Regions from separate parts of the Homo sapiens genome. Here region 2 is linked to region 1. The links come from fine-mapping of genetic effects on gene expression. A gene starts in region 1. The other region holds a variant in brackets. All regions are shown on one strand. Distances are between the middles of the regions.

Evidence for each region.
Region 2: its variant is fine-mapped to the expression of SESN1 in whole blood (INTERVAL, PIP 0.91).

The regions. Positions count from the first base shown.
Region 1 is chr6:109,090,631-109,098,965 of GRCh38, reverse strand. SESN1 (sestrin 1) reads left to right here and starts at 4,120. Exons shown (of 10, transcript NM_014454.3): 1 at 4,120-5,171. The coding sequence starts at 4,893. It overlaps CEP57L1 (centrosomal protein 57 like 1), which reads right to left and starts at 3,459. Exons shown (of 11, transcript NM_001271852.3): 1 at 3,391-3,459. RefSeq lists enhancers at 3,473-3,732, 4,603-4,752 and a silencer at 3,793-4,492.
Region 2 is chr6:109,038,674-109,047,008 of GRCh38, reverse strand. The region is part of intron 1 of SESN1 (sestrin 1); the gene reads left to right. It also overlaps a transcript of ARMC2 not described here. Among named protein-coding and RNA genes, the nearest start is that of SESN1, 52 kb to the left of the region's middle. RefSeq lists an enhancer at 594-1,161 and a silencer at 1,249-1,543. The variant A/G (reference allele first, on the strand shown) is at 3,514.

The sequences.
Region 1 (8,335 bases):
TTGACTCTTACTCTCACACAATCTGTCAGCAAAGTCTGTTGGCTATACTATCAAAATGTATCCAGATTCTGTCACCTGGATTATTACTTTAGTTTCCTAACCAGTCTCTCTGCTTCCACCCTTGCTTCCCTATGGTCTATGCTCAACACAATTTAAAAGAAATATTCACTTCAGGCCAGTTGCAGTGGGTTATGCCTCTAATCTCAGCACTTTGGGAGGCTGAGGCAGGAGGATCACTTGAGGCAATCACTTGAGGAGTTCAAGACCAGCCTGGGCAACACAGTGAGATCCTGTCTCTACAAAAAGACAAAAATTATCTCAGTTATGTAATTTCAGTTAAAAAAAAAAAGGAAAAAATACAAAATTAGCTGGGCTTGTTGGCACGTGCCTGTAGTCCCAACTACCTGGGAGACTGAGGTGGGAGGATTACTTGAGCCCAGGAGTTCAAGGATGCAGTGAGCTATGACTATACTCCAGCCTGGGTGACATAGTCAGATTCTGTCTCAGGAAAAAAGAAAGAGGCCGGGCACGGTGGCTCACACCTGTAATCCAGCACTTTGCAAGGCTGAGGTGGGTGGATCACTTGAGGTTAGGAATTCAAGACCAGCCTGACCAACATGGTGAAACCCTGTCTCTACTAAAAACACAAAATTAGCCAGGTATGGTGGTGCATGCCTGTAATCCCAGCTACTTGGGAGGCCGAGGACGAAGAATCACTTAAACTTGGGAGGTGGAGGTTGCAGTGAGCCAAGATTGTGCTATTGCACTCCAGCCTGGGCAACAAGAGCAAAACTCCGTTGAGACAGAGGGAGAGAGAGAGAGAGAGAAAGAGAGAGAGAGAAAAGTAGTCATTTTTTAAAAGTCAGATCATGCCCTCATCTGCGCAAAACTCTCCAATGCTTTCCCAACCCAATTAAAAATGTTAGTCCTTTCAGTCACCTACATGTTCTCCTACCATTACTTCCTTTCTCTGTGACCTCATGTTATTCTCCTCTTTGTACTCATTGTGCTCCAGCCACACTAGCCTTCTTGCTATTTCTCAAATGCGCACTCAGGCTTCTGCCCAAGGCCTTTGCACTAATTCTCTTCATTAGAATGTTATTTGCCCAGGCATCTACATGGTTTATTCCCTCCCCTACTTCATATCTCAATTGTCCCCTTCTGGATTATGTCTTTTCTAACAACCTTATTTAAAAGTGAACCTTGCCCCTCACATCCTGGCACTCCCCATTCCCCTTCCCAGTTGTTTTATTCTCCACTGCATTTGTCTTCATTTCATTTACTAAGTGTTTTACATATTTATTTATTATCTCTCCTCAGTAGAATGCAAGCTCTATGACAGTAGGAATTTTTATATATTGTGGTCAATGCTGTATCTTCAATGTCCTGTTATATAAAAGGGACTCAACAGAGATTTGTTGAGTAAACGCGTGGGTGAAATGGAATATGAGAACCAATGACTGAAAAATGGACTGTATGGCTGATCTGGAGGGCAATATATGAAGTTAGTCTGAAAGAGTACCAGATGATGTCAGGCTTTATAAAGGAGTTTTGTCTTTAACAGTAGTAGGACACCACTGAATAGTTTTAACCAAGAGAAAATCTGATCAAATCTGCAGTTTCAAAAAATCATTCTGGCAGATATAATGGAGAACTAATGGAGGAGGGTCATTGTGAATAATTGCTACTGTAGTGGTCTTGAGAGATTATCGCAGTTTGAAGACAGGTGGAGAGAAAAATATATTTGAAGGATATTTTGAGAGATAAGGTTGGCAGAACTTCATAATAATTTGGCCATAGAAGTATGAAGGGCAAGAAGAAATAAAGAATAATGTTTAGCTTTCAAATTTTCACAAGTAGATGGATAGTAGTGTCCTTTGCTGAAATAAGGAACACTGAAAAAGAATTAGATTCATAAGAGATAACTATGCATTTGGTTTTAGGTATGTTGAGTTTGAGATGCTTTTGAGATATCCAAGAAGAAATATCCAAGAGATATTGTGAAAGCTGAGAGGTGAAGCTGAATGGAGCTATTCATTTGAGAGTCATAGGTGTTGGTGAAGCCATGGGTATACATGAGATCATATTTAACTACGGCATAAAAAGGCACCCAGCCTTAAGAAACTACCCGACCCTTTATGGGCTGGATAGAGAATGAAGATCCCAAAAAGGAGATGAAAACGGAATGGTTTTTGTTTTGCTTTTTCAATCACACTCATAAGTTATTCCCTTTTTAAAATTCAGATTCAAACTAGAAGTGTCAGAATGTAACAAGGCTTTTGAAATTAGACCAATTCATCAGAACTATGCATCTATTCAAAAATAGCTCACTTACAGAAACGATGTAAAGAATTCACAATACCTGTCTCTTTGTAGCTTCTAAGTGCATCAATACACAAAAAGCACCCTTCCCGTCCCACCCCACACCGCCAAGTATGCATGATTTGGCTTACTGACGTTTCCTGAAAGTACCCTATCTCTCACTCTGGGCCTTAGCATATGCTGTTCTTTTGGTCTTCATTTCCCCTGGGATGAAGATTTCCCTGACTTTCCAAGATTGGGCTAAGTCATCTCCTTCTAGACATCCCAGTGATATCATGTATTATTGTAACCGTATGTCTAACAACTAGTTCCTCTAACTAGTAAGACTGTCTTTTTCATTGTTGTATACTCAGTGCCTAGCAAGACGAAATTTTTAGAATTTAGTGCAATGCAATTCTGCAATGTAAAGAATTAAAATCTACACCGATTATCAGTCCACTGATGGCCGTTCAAACCTCGACTTTTCTCAAATAATAACTTTTTAAAAGCAAACTAATTTTAAGCAAATGACTGAATCTTTTGAAAAAGTCGACTAAGTTTTGGAGACTTTTACGGTTTTGCTTTCTTTTTCCTGCTGTATCCTTAAAGCCTGCAAGAATTCCTATCTAGGAATACTGGGGATTCTTTTACGAGATGGATTTGACAACTTGCTTTCAAAGCCCTGCCTAGGATTTCATTTGACTGAGCAAATAAAGCCCAGAACATCCCTAAGCAAAGGCAAACAAAGGTGCAAATGCGCGGAGATCCCAAATCCACCCCGCGTGTGTCCACAAAAAAGGGCGGAATCAGAGGCAGCAGCGCGAAGCTCCAGTTTCCACAGCATCCTTCCTTCTTGGCCTTACTTAGGCCGCTCCCTGCGACCCTTGGGATCAGGATCCCAAATCCTTGCCTCACCCACCACACCCCGCGCTTGGGCAGCTGGACTAGTCCTTCCCACGCAAGTCACTGGAAAAAGTCCTTGGACTAAGGGAGGCCACCCTAGATGGCTTTGTCTCCAAAATCCCAGAGGAAATGGAGGAAGGAAAAACCCTGTCAAGGAAAGGTGACAACCCAGCTTACAGTGCTTACCAAGCAGACGCTCTCAGTCAGCCCCTGCCACCGCTAACCGTTGGTTCGCGGGCACCCACAGGCAACGTCGCGGTGGCCCCTGGGGGTTGTAGTTTCTGTCGCAAACAAAACGCGCCGGCAGCATCGAAACTACATTCCCCACAAGTCAACGCGAAGACGTCCTACCGACTTAAATCTGGGGTTTGGAGTAATGAAGAGGCCGTCACTACTTTTAGGGTGATCTTAAATGTAGACTCAATTTCTTCCAGGAGTCCCTTCGCGCCCTCTTTCTTTGTCGTGCTTGTTTTATGTGTGACGAAGTCTCAGTGTACTTCTACGTCTTACTTTTTCCTTCCCCTTCTCCAGGACAGAGTCCAAACGTCCGGGAACGGAAACCGCCTCAGGGCGCAAGCTTAGCGCCTCCGGGGGCGCTTGGCCCAGTTCGCAGTCACGCATGCGTAGCAGCCGGCAGTGGCTGGCAGCCGCGCGCGGCGCACTTGGGGTCCGGAGGGTAGCCTGCCAGAGGGCGGGGCTTTTTCCTAAGGCTTTGCCTCGGCGGGTCGCGTCTGCCTGGGCGGGGAAGAAGGCGCTGGGGCCGGGGCGGCTCCCGGTTTGTGCCGGGCGGAGAAAGGGGAGGGGCTGGGGGTGAGGACCCCGTCTCCACTCCCTGCTCCCGCCCTCTGGGCTGATCCCCACCGATGGGGCTGGGCGAAGGGCGGGCTTTGCGCCTCGGGCCCCGCCGCCCCGCCAGCTCCGCGGCCCAGCCTGGCGCTCGAGGATTGCCAGGGCCGCCCTGTGCCCTCTGGCTCGGCGGTGGTGGGCGAGGGCTCAGGGATCGGAGAAGTAGCGTCTTCCCGGGGGTGCCGAATTGGCGGGGCTGGGGGACGCTTTTTTTCACCGCCGCCCGCCGAGACTACGGCTGCCCGAGACTGCCGCCCTCCGACAGCGCCCAAGCCTCCGGCCGCTGCGGCCAGTGGGCCAGGGTTCGGCGAGCCTTCCCTGCCGGCGCCGGCCGGCTGCTGAGGCGCTGGGAGGAGCTGCGGAGGGCGGGGACTGGTGTCGGAGAAGGGGCGGGGTGGGAACGCCGGAGAGAACCCGGTGGCTGCACAGACAAAAAAGCCCCGAATGGCTGGAGGGCGTTCAGCTGTTAACAGCCTTTTGGGGCAGAGCACGGATTTGACAGCTCCACAACGTGAGGATATCCACTGACCCCGCGAGACGGAGGAGAACGCTTCCCCGAAATTCTCTGCCCACCAAAGCCAGCGCTGCAAGGTTGCAACTTTCAAACTTTGTTTTTCCAGAAAGAAGACTGCCCTTTCGTGTACAAGGAGAGGGTGAGAGGGTGACCTAGCTTGTAGATCGGCTGAAGGCACCAGTGGTTCCAAATGTCACCCAGATGTGTGTTTTCATGACGATTTGATTTCTCTGATTTTATTTTTACATTTTTCATTTTAAAAATACAAAGCAATTTTTTTGGGGCATGCTGAAAGGTAACTGAAGACCGCAAAGGAAAAACTATTGTCATGGCTGAAGGAGAGAATGAAGTGAGATGGGATGGACTCTGCAGCAGAGATTCAACTACTAGGGAGACAGCATTGGAAAACATTAGGCAAACCATTTTGAGGAAAACCGAGTATCTTCGTTCGGTGAAAGAAACACCTCATCGTCCATCAGACGGGCTTTCAAATACCGAGTCTTCGGATGGGTTGAATAAGCTACTTGCTCATCTGCTTATGCTTTCTAAGAGGTGTCCCTTCAAAGATGTGAGAGAGAAAAGTGAGTTTATTCTGAAGAGCATCCAGGTAAGGAAGAGCATTTTAAATACAACTATGTCTCTACTACAGTTAAATTTTACTTGCCGTTATTCACGTTGTGTTTGTTTCTATTAGGTTGTTATGTAAACTTTTATTATGAGTTTACATCTTTAGAGTGTTCTGTAAGTAAACAAGTAGTGTTTTTCTAGAGTTTTAGGCAGAAACTGCTTTGCTCCTGGAAGAATATATGAAAACTACAGTTAATTCCAAGTAAATACTTGTTTTTCCTTATATTTCTTTTTACATGTTGTTGGAAAATGTAGCCAGTGTTTTTTTTTCACATTGTCACAGTGTTCTGAGTGTAAAGGCTCACATTTAAAAGCCTCTAAAATGATAAAGGATATTAAATGTTTCCTAGTCAGCCTGTTCAAGATAATTGGTGGAACAATTTTCTCTTATTTTTAAAAACAAAACAAACCAGGATGTGTTCTCTAAATGCAACCTCTCTTTTTTCAAGAAGAGAATTATATAAAATAATAAAAACCTATCTTAAAAGAAGCTAATATCTTCATGTTGAAAAGGTGGACCCAGGTGGGGTATTTGATAGAAACACTTTTATGGCAAATTGCTCAACTAGCTTTCTCTGTGTTTGCCTGAATTGTTTCTTTTTCACATGTGTAGCTATTTAAGATACGAGTGCAGCAGGTTAAAAATATTATAGTTTTTCCTCCATTTCGTTCATAATTTATCCTGTTTTATTACAAGGTGTCTTAGAATACTTTTTTTTAAGTTTTTAGATATTGACAATATTCAGCAACACCTTATATATGCTTGTCAATCTTTACATTTCTCAATCCACGTGTGTTGTCCAAAGTCCTGTATGAGAGATTTTTAAAATTTAAAATGTACTTGGGTAACTATGTAAGTTAAAAGTGACAGTTTTTATATACTGGCTTGAATTTAGTTTAAAGCAACAGAAAAATAATATCCACAAAATGAAGACTCTATTTAAGATCTTGGGATATTTCTTCTCACTAACACTTTGGAAACAATTGTTACAATTCAGAGTTACCCGAGAGGAATTAATATACTAGGTAACTGAAGTTTACCCTTTGAAACACAAAAAGTTATTTCTCTATCTTCTAGACTGTAGTGACTGTAACAACCATTTTTGTCCATAATGGGGTCATCATTATGCATATCAACTATTGTTGTGCAGCAAAGGGTGGAGGACTGACTATATGATCCATTAGTTTTTGTATTTTTGTGTGTAATTTTTATAGTTTTTCTGTTCTTTCCTTTGCCGTCAGGATACTTGACTTTGGTCTCTTCCTGATCTTTCATTTTGCTGCTTAATTCATATTAGAATGGGAAACCAGATAACCAATCGTGTTAAGAGTTATATTGAAAATAAAAGTAAGCAGGCTCTGGGGAGCATAGTATCAAAGGATTTCAATATAATGATAAATAAGTGGGTACTGGAGTCAGAGTTGGGCTCAAATTCCACTCCTTTACTAATGTCCTTGCCTGTAACCTTGGGCAAATTCCTTGACCTTTCTTAGCTTGGATTTCCACATCTGTAAAATGGGAATAACAACACAGAGCTCTTGTGGGAATTAAATCAGATGTAAAGTACTCTGGTATATATAGTAGATGCTCCTCTCCCTTTCATAAGTGAAATACATAGACTATGCAATATATATTTCAAGACTCTTTCATCCTGCAAAAGGACTCAGGAATTTCCTGGGAAGGTTCCCTATAGACTTATACTCTTTTTTTCCATCTCTGCATCTATTGTACAATTATAAAAGGCAATTTACTTATATTGTGTTATAAGCACATGCTTTTGTGTCTGTCTCCCATAGGAAGGCTATGAGTTCTTAAGAGTACTGGCTGGGACCTGGAAGCTACTAAATAAATATCCAGTGGATGAACAAATTTATACTTTCTTTCTGTTTTTCATCAGTAGTCTGAATAGATGAAGTTTTCAGTTTAGGGAGTTTCCACCCCAGCATCATTCATTTATGCTTGCAGTTATGCAACAAATGTTTATTGAACTCCTGCTGAATGTCATTCTGAGAACTGAGGACCAGTGGTAACAATTTTGACATCATACCAAAGGGAAACAGACCATAAAGAAGTAAACAAATATAAAATTTAATTTTAGATAGTAAGGGAAAGCTTTCCTGAGGCAATGACATTTAAGCAGAGACATGATAAATGAATAAATATTACCCATGTAAAGGTGAGATTTGTGAGGGGACATTCCGGACATAGGGAACGGTATGTATGAAGGCCTCATGCCAAGGAGAGCAGATGAGTTCTAGGAGCTGAAAGTAATGCAATATGGCTGGGGCAGACAGTTTGAGGGTGGCGTGAATAGCTTAAGAGGACATACTCTGGAGTTTGGCAGACCTGGCTGCGATACTGTCATGTGTCACTTAATGATGGTGATACACTCTGAGAAATGCATCGTTAGGTGGTATCATATTTGTTTGAACATCATAGGGTGAAATCACACAAACCTAGATACTACACACCTAGGCTATGTGTTATATAGCCTGTTGTTTCTAGGCTACAAACCCGTACAGCGTGTCACTGTACTGAATACGCTTTGGCAATTGTAATGCAATGGTAAGTATTTGTGTATCTAAACATAGAAAAGGTAGAGTAATAATATAGAATTACAATTGACCCTTGAACAGCATAGGTTTGAACTGCATGAGTCCACTTATAGGAAGATTATTTTTTCAATAGAAGTTATACTAAGTTGGGCGGGGTGGCTCACACCTGTAATCCCAGCACTTTGGAAGGCTGAGGTGGAAAGATCTCCTGAGGTCAGGAGTTGGAGACCAGCCTGAACAACATAGCAAGACCCATCTCTACAAAAAGTCAAGAAAAAAAAATTAGCTGGGTGCAGTGGAGCACACCTGTAGTACCAGCTATTCAGGAGGCTAAGGCAGGAGGATCGCTTGAGCCCAAGAGTTCGAGGTTGCAGTGAGCTGTGATTGTCTCATTGTCCTCCAGCCCTCTGGCGACAGAGCAAAACCCTGTTTCAAACAAACAAACAAACAAAAGTTACACTTGAGTATGCCTGCCTCTTCTGCCTCTCCTTCCGCCTATTCCACCTCTATCACCCCTGAGATAGCAAGACCAACCCCTCCTCTTGATCCTCCTCCTCAGTGTACTCAAAGTGAAGACCGTAAGAATGA
Region 2 (8,335 bases), 52 kb after region 1:
GGGGGCTGACCCCCCCCACCTCCCTCCCGGACGGGGTGGCTGCCGGGTGGAGACGCTCCTCACTTCCCAGATGGGGTGGCTGCCGGGCGGAGAGGCTCCTCACTTCTCAGACGGGGCAGCTGCCGGACGGAGGGGCTCCTCACTTCTCATACGGGGTGGTTGCCAGGCAGAGGGTCTCCTCACTTCTCAGACAGGGCGGCCGGGCAGAGACGCTCCTCACCTCCCAGACGGGGTCTCGGCCGGGCAGAGGCACTCCTCACAACCCAGATGGGGCGGCGGGGCAGAGGCGCTCCCCACATCTCAGACGATGGGCGGCCGGGCAGAGACGCTCCTCACTTCCTAGATGTGATGGCGGCTGGGAAGAGGCGCTCCTCACTTCCTAGATGGGATGGCGGCCGGGCGCAGACGCTCCTCACTTTCCAGACTGGGCAGCCAGGCAGAGGGGCTCCTCACATCCCAGACGATGGGTGGCCAGGCAGAGACACTCCTCACTTCCCAGACGGGGTGGCGGCCGGGCAGAGGCTGCAATCTCGGCACTTTGGGAGGCCAAGGCAGGCGGCTGGGAGGTGTAGGTTGTAGTGAGCCGAGATCATGCCACTGCACTCCAGCCTGGGCACCATTGAGCACTGAGTGAACGAGACTCCGTCTGCAATCCCGGCACCTCGGGAGGCCAAGGCTGGCGGATCACTCGCGGTTAGGGGCTGGAGACCGGCCCGGCCAACACAGCGAAACCCCGTCTCCACCAAAACCAGTCAGGCGTGGCGGCGCGTGCCTGCAATCGCAGGCACTCGGCAGGCTGAGGCAGGAGAATCAGGCAGGGAGGTTGCAGTGAGCCGAGATGGCAGCAGTACAGTCCAGCTTCGGCTCCGCATGAGAGGGAGACCGTGGGGAGAGGGAGAGGGAGAGGGCTAGAGCTACATTATCTTATTGCATTAGATTTTTTTAAGCTTGTAAATATAATATTTTTTACTTATGTTCCAAAGTATATGAATTATTGAAAGTTGAGGCATTGGTTTTTCATTTAGAGCAAAAGACAGAATACGCTTTTTTCAGCCCATATGGGTTCAAAATCAAATTCTTATTTTCAATCAGAGTTCTTCCATATCGTGCCTCACATTTATTTATTTCAGAAACATGTATTATCTACTCTGTGTAACATTCCATGCCAGACACTGGAGAAACAGATAAGGCAAAGGTCTCATTCTCAAGGAGCTCACAGACAGGTGGGCAAGATAAACAGGCAGTTATGGTATATACTAGTAAGTGCCATGCAAGAGAATTCTGCAAAGGCTTTGGATGGTTGGGGATGAGGGGATACAGAAAGGGAGTAGCCAGGGTAAGCGCTGTAGAAGAGTAATGCCTCAGCTGGCTCTTGAAGCCTGACTAAGGAGAGGCCAGTTGAAGAAGTGAGAGATAAGGTGCTCTGGTCAGAGAGATTAGCATGTGCAAAAGTACAGAACCATGAGATTTACTGTGTTTGAAGAACTGTAAGTAAGTTGAACTCAGTATCATTGGAGACATAGGCAGAGATGCAATCTGAAATGGAATTATATGCCATGTGAAGAATCTGGATTTTATTTTGAAAGTTAGGGGGAACCTATAAAGGATTATATCATCATCAGATCTGCATTTTGGAAAGACTTCTCCAGTGTAGAGAATAGGCTAGAAGGTGGCAAAGGCATTGAGACAGAAAGGAGGCTATCGTTCTAATCTGGGAGAGACATGGTGAGGGACTGTTTTGATGGGGTTGGGAGTGAGGTTGAGGATAGGGGATAGATTTTACAGTTTCTAGGATGTAGAATATTCAGAACTTGACAAGAGGTTAGTAAGGGTGTCAGAGGAGCCTAGCTAGGCACAGACTTGCAGGTGTCTGCACTGGACAACTGGAGGTATAATGAAGGCCTTCGTGGAGATAGGGAATATAAGAGGTGGTAGCGTAGTGCAATGGGTTTGGGGAAGGTGATGAGTTCAGCTTTTTTTTTTTTGAAATGGAGTCTCGCTCTTGTTGCCCAGGATGGAGTGCAGTGGCGCAATCTCAGCTCACCGCAACCTCTACCTCCTGGGTTCAACCGATTCTCTTGCCTCAGCTGCCCAAGTAGCTGAGATTACAGGCATGCGCCACCACGCTCAGCTAATTTTGTATTTTTAGTAGAGATGGGGTTTCTTCATGTTGGTCAGGCTGGTCTCAAACTCCTGACCTCAGGTGATCTGCCCTCCTCGACCTCCCAAAGTGCTGGGATTACAGGCGTGAGCCACTGCGCCCGGCTGAGTTCAGCTTTTTATTTTTTATTTTTTGATTCGAGATGTCTGTGTGACATCAAGATTAAATATATTAGGTAGATAGAGAAATAGGCCTCAGATTCAGGAGAAAGGACTGAGATGTAATTACAGGTTTGGTCAGTGATGAAAGCGTGAGATCATTCAGGGTGATCTAGATGTAGATATTCTCTTATGTTTTCTTCTAGATGTTTTTTAGTCTTATATATTAAATTTAGGTCTGTGATCCATTTTGAGTTACTTTTTGTTAAGGGTATGAGGTTTATGTCTAGAATCATTTTGTTTTCTTTCTTTTCTTTGCGTATGGATGTCCTATTATTTCATCATTACTTGGTGGAAAGACTATCCTTTCTTCCTTTCTCCATTGAATTGCCTGTACTCCTTTTTTTTTTTTTTTTTTTTTTTTTTTTTTTTTTTTTTGAGGCAAGTTCTCACTGTGTCATCTAGGCTGGAGTGTGGTGGTGTGATCACGGCTCACTGCCCTGGTATCCTTGGCTCAGACAGCCCTCCTGTCTTAGCCTCCCAAGTAGCTGGGATCACCGGCAGGTGCCACTATGCCTGGATAATTTTTTTTTTATTTGTAGTAGTGGAGTCTCCCTGTGTTGCTTCGGCTGGTCTTGAACTCCTGGGCTCAAGCAATCCTCTTGCCTTGGCCTCCCAAAGTGCTGGGATTACAGGTGTGAGCCACCATACCTGGCCACTTCTTTGTTAACAATAAGTTGACCATATTTTTATCAGTCTATTTCTGGGCTCTCTATTCTGTTCCATTGATATGTGTATCTGTCCTTTCACCAATATCATGCTGTATTAATTATGATAGCTTTATAATAAGTCATGAAAACAGTTAGTATGACTGTTCTAGGTCTTTTGCCTTTCCATATAAAATTTTGAATCAGTTTGTTGACATTTACAAAATAGCTTGCCAAGATTATATTTGGAATGTTGAACTTACAGATGGGAAAAATGGACACCTTACTAGTATTGAGTCTTCCAATCTATGAGCATTGAATATTTCTCCACTTATTTGGATTTTTGATTTCTTTGATCAGAGTTTTGTAGTTTTTGGTGTATAGAGTCTATACATATTTTGTTGGATTTATGCCTATTTTCTTTTTTATTGTAATTCTTTTAATTTCAAATTCCAGTTGTTCACTGATGGTCTATAGAAAAGCAATTCACTCTTGTATATTAACTTTGTATCCTGCAACCTGCTCAACTCCCTTATTAGTTCTAGGA[A/G]TTCGTTGTTTTTTATAAATTCCTTGGGATTTTCTATGTACATAATTGTGTCATCTATAAGTAGGGACAGTTGTTATTTATTCCGTTTGTTGTTTTTGTTGTTGTTGTTGTTTTTTATCTGTATGGCTTTTATTTACTTTTCTTGCCTTATTGCCCTGACTAGAACTTCCAGGACTATGTTGTGTAAGAGTGGTGAGAGTAAATATTCTTTCCTTCTTCCCAATCTTAAGAGGAAAGCATTCCATCTTTCACCGTTAAGTATAAAAACAGCTGTAGGTTTTTGTAGAAGTTTTTAAGCTGAGGTAACTCCCACTCTGTTCTTATTTTTCTGAAAGTTTTTAAAAATCATAAATGAGTGTTAAATTTACTCAAATGTTTTTCTGCATCAATTAATATGAACATATGGTTTTTCTTCCTTAGCCTGTTAAAATGGTAGATTGCATTGATTTTCAGATGTTGAACCAGCCATGCATTCCTGGAATAAATCCCCCTAAATCTTGATATATAATGCTTTTTATACATTGTGGAATTCTGTTTGCTAATATTTTGTTTAGGATTTTTGCCTCCATTTTCATGAGGCTGTATTTTTCTTTTTTTGTATTGTCTTTGTCTGGTTTTGGTATTAGGTTAATACTAGCTTCATAAAAATAATTGAAAATTTTTCCCTCCTTGTTTTCTGGAAAATATTATGTAAAATTGGAGTTAATTCTTTAAATGTTTGGTGGAGTTATCCAGTGAAATAAACTGGATTTGGAAATTTATTTTGGGGGAGTTTTTAAAAATCACAAATTCAATTTTCTTAATAGCAATAGGGCTATTCAGGTGATCTATTTCATAGTAGGTGAGTTATGGAGTTATGGTGGGAATTGACCCATTTTGTCTAACTTGTCAAATGTATGAGTATAGAATGTTCACAGTATTCCATTATTATCTTTTGGTCTTTGCAGGTTTGTTTTTTTTTTTTCGCAATAATCCTCTGTTTCATTCCTAATAGATATTGGTAATTTATGTCTTCTCTTAATTCCCGTGTCAGTCTTGCTAGAGGTTTTTCAATTTTTTTTTCTTTTCAAAGAACCAGCAGTTTGTTTCACTGATTTTCTTTTACTCTTTTGTTTTTCTGTTTTCAAATTCATTGATGTTTGTTCTTTATTATTTTCTTCTGTCTGCTTGATTCTCAGTTTATACTGCTCTTCTTTCCCTAGGCTCTTGACATAGAATTTTAGATCATTTATTTGAATTTTTTATTTTTTAATGTATATATGTAGTGTTATAAATTTCCCTCTCAGCACTGCTTCAGCTGTGTCCCACAAATTTTGATATGTTGTATTTTCATTTTCATCCTATTCAATATATTTTTTAAATCTCCCCGATACCTCCTCTTTCACTCATGAATTATTTCTGAGTGTGGTGTTTAGTTTGCAAATGTGTCCAGGCTTCCATTTTCCTATTATCTTTCTATTATTTACTTCTAGTGTGATTTCGTTATGATCAGAGAACACATACTTTGCATGATTTTCATTCTTTTAAATATATTCAAATTTATTTTATGGCCATGATGTATTCTGTTTTGGTATATATTCCCTGAGCATGCTAAAAGGCTATGTATTTTCTTATTAGGTAGAGTATTTTATAAATGTTGATTACATCCTGTTGGTTTATAATATTGTTGAGTTCCTCTACATTTTTGCTGATTTTCTGTCTAGTTGTTCTAGCAATTGTTGAGAGAGGAATGTTGAAGTCTCCTGCTATAATTATGGATTTGTTTATTTCTCCTTTCCGTACTACCAGGTTTTCCTTCATATATTTTACAGCTCTGTTTGGTGGATGTACATTTGGGTATTGCTATATATTCTTGGTGGGTTTAACTTTTTATCATGATATATAATGTCCCTCCTTGTCTCTGGTAATTTTCTTTGCTCTGAAGTCTACTTTATTTGGTATTAATATAAAAATTCCTGCTTTTTCAAAAAATGTAGTAAAACAACAATTATGGTAAATAACTTCTACCGCTTTTTCATTGTCCTCAAAATCCCTCCTTTGGCTTAATAGTTACTTGTTAGTGGCGTAAGTACTTGTACAAGTATGTTTGGTAGATTTACTGAGTTGTTGGAGATGAGAAATAGCAAAAGGTCATCTGCTATTTTTATGTTGCAATTTTATTTTATTTTTTTAAATTATTATTTATTTAGTTTTTGAGACAGAGTCTCACTCTGCCACCCAGACTGGCACAATCACAACTCACTGCAGCCTTAACCTTCTGTGTTCAAACAATCCTCCTGCCTAAGCCCCCCAAGTAGCTGGGACTATAGGTGCATGCCACAATGCCTGGCTAGTTTTGGTTTGTTTTTTTTTTTTTTAATAGAAACAGGGTCCCACTATGTTGCCCAGGCTGATCTCAAACTCCTGGGCTCATGCTAATCTCCTTCCTCAGCTTCCCAAAGTGCTGGGATTATGGGCATGAGCCACTGTGCCTGGCCTGCAATTTGAAATGATGCACACTCTGTAAATTGAGGGTATGTTATTTTAAAAATTTATGCTAGTTTGGGCCAGGTGCGGTGGCTCACGCCTGTAATCCCAGCACTTTGGGAGGCTGAGGCGGGCAGATCACGAGGTCAGGAGATTGAGACCATCCTGGCTAACACGGTGAAACCCCGTCTCTACTAAAAATACAAAAAATTAGCTGGGCGTGGTCGCGTGCACCTGTAGTTCCAGCTACTCAGGAGGCTGAGGCGGGAGAATCGCTTGAACCCAGGAGGCAGAGCTTGCAGTGAGATGAGATTGCGCCACTGCACTCCAGCCTGGGCGACAGAGCGAGACTGTCTCAAAAAAAAAAAAAAAGATTATGCTAGTTTGTCACATATATGTTTAACAGTTCATTTGTTTTCAAGAAGTTAAATTCAGGGAAGCGACACCAAGAATTCCTGTTTTAATTTAATCATTGTAGTGGGACACCTGATGTAATTTGCTGGCGTTACCCTAAGAGTCCTTGGACAAGTATGTACACAAGGAATGAGAATGGCACAACTAAAATGATAAATTCTTAGTAACTTTCCCACATTTAACAACTAAATTGACAGAGAAATCAGAAGTCCAAAACAATAAATGAAACCTTTTAATCCTTCTTCAACCCCAGTAATTTATTATTACTCCCCCTAAAAAATCCTCAGTCGTAATACTTTTCTGCATAATTTGTTCAAAAAGGTGTATTTAAATATAATAAAAAGGAATGTCATATAAAGGAGAGGAGACTTGCCAAACTAGATTATTTCTCTTGTGAAAGAAGGGAGAGTTGGGGGTTGTGGTGGGGGTAGTTGTTGCTTAACTTTTATTAGTTCTGTAGTTGAAGACTAGCAATTCAAATAATAATCTCTTATCTCATGACTGAAGTTTTTACGCTAAAGATAATACTGTACTTGGTATCAGTAGGCCATCTCTTTCCAGGTAATTGTTTTCCCAGTCGTGGTTCCTAAGTGAGCTCAGCCATACACATTCTCTCACAGTCCTTCATTTGACTGTTGGTACATACACATTTGTGAAATCCCAGCCACAGCTGTGATGCAGTCTGTGGCCATGAAATAATCCCCCTTGACTGTGCTTTCTCCTCTCTCCCATCCTGCTTCCTTTTCAGAGTTGAAGCCACAATAATTCACTTCACTAACTTATTTTCTATATGAACAAGACTCTAGTTAAGACAATAGAAAGATCAACAAGGTTCTTAAAAAACTGAATTGGTAGCTAAAATAACTTTTACTAGAAACTTTGTAGTTTATGAAAATACTGGTTCTCGTTTCTAGTAACTCATTTCGCCATTTGGGTTAGCAAGTTTAGAATCTACAAATGTAAATCATCTATATATTTTGGTTTTTAATCCCAGTGATGGGACTATGACCCCTCCACTTGAGATGTTTTAGTAGTGCTTATCAAGATAAAGATAGCCAGTGCTTGCTGGCAGTACTCAGTAAGAAAAGTCACCAGACAGCTCTGTGATTTGCAGATTTGATGTTCTTGCCTCCAAGTTGTCTTAAATTGGACCTCATCTTGAACTGAAAATCGTGAAATACAATGATGATACTTTGACATTAATAGTTACTGTTTGTAAAAGTGAAGGGAAATTACAGAAAATTCTCAGTTAATCATGTTTGAGAATGTAAGATGGTATGATTAATAAGCTATTATGACTTAAATGATTTATGCAGTATATACAATTTATATTCCATACAAATTTGTGAAGTAGGCAAAATTTATCTTTGGTCATGGTCTTCCCTACCCTCTATAGTATCCCTTCCTTGCCCTCAGGCACAGAGCCTCTTCTTTCTTCTTCTTCTTTCTTCTCCTCCTCCTCCTTCCTTCTCCTCTTCTTTCTTTCTCCTTCTCCTCCTTCCTTCTCCTTCTCCTCCCTCCTTCTCCTTTTCCTCCCTCCTTTCTTCCTCCTTCTTGTTCTCCTTCTCCCTCCTTCTTCTTTCTTTCTCTTTTTCTTTCTTTCTCTTTCTTCTTTTCTCCTCCTCCTCCTTCTTCTTTTTCTTTTCCTTCTTCTCCCTTCTCCCTTCTTTTCTTCTTCTCTTTTCTTCTCCTCCTCCTCCTCCTTCCTTTTTTCTCCTTCCTTCTTCTTTTCCTCTTCATTTCTTCTTCCTCCTCCTCTTGCTCTTCTTTTTCCTTTCTTTCTGCCCCAATTGCCGTCAGAATCTGCTCTTAGGGAAGTAGCTGATCCCTACAATGGAGTTACCTCATTCATACACTTAACTTATGCAAATTTAACTATTCTTGCTTATTAAAAATTTCTTAAGGTAGGGCAGAAAATATTTTAAATATAAATTGCATAGGC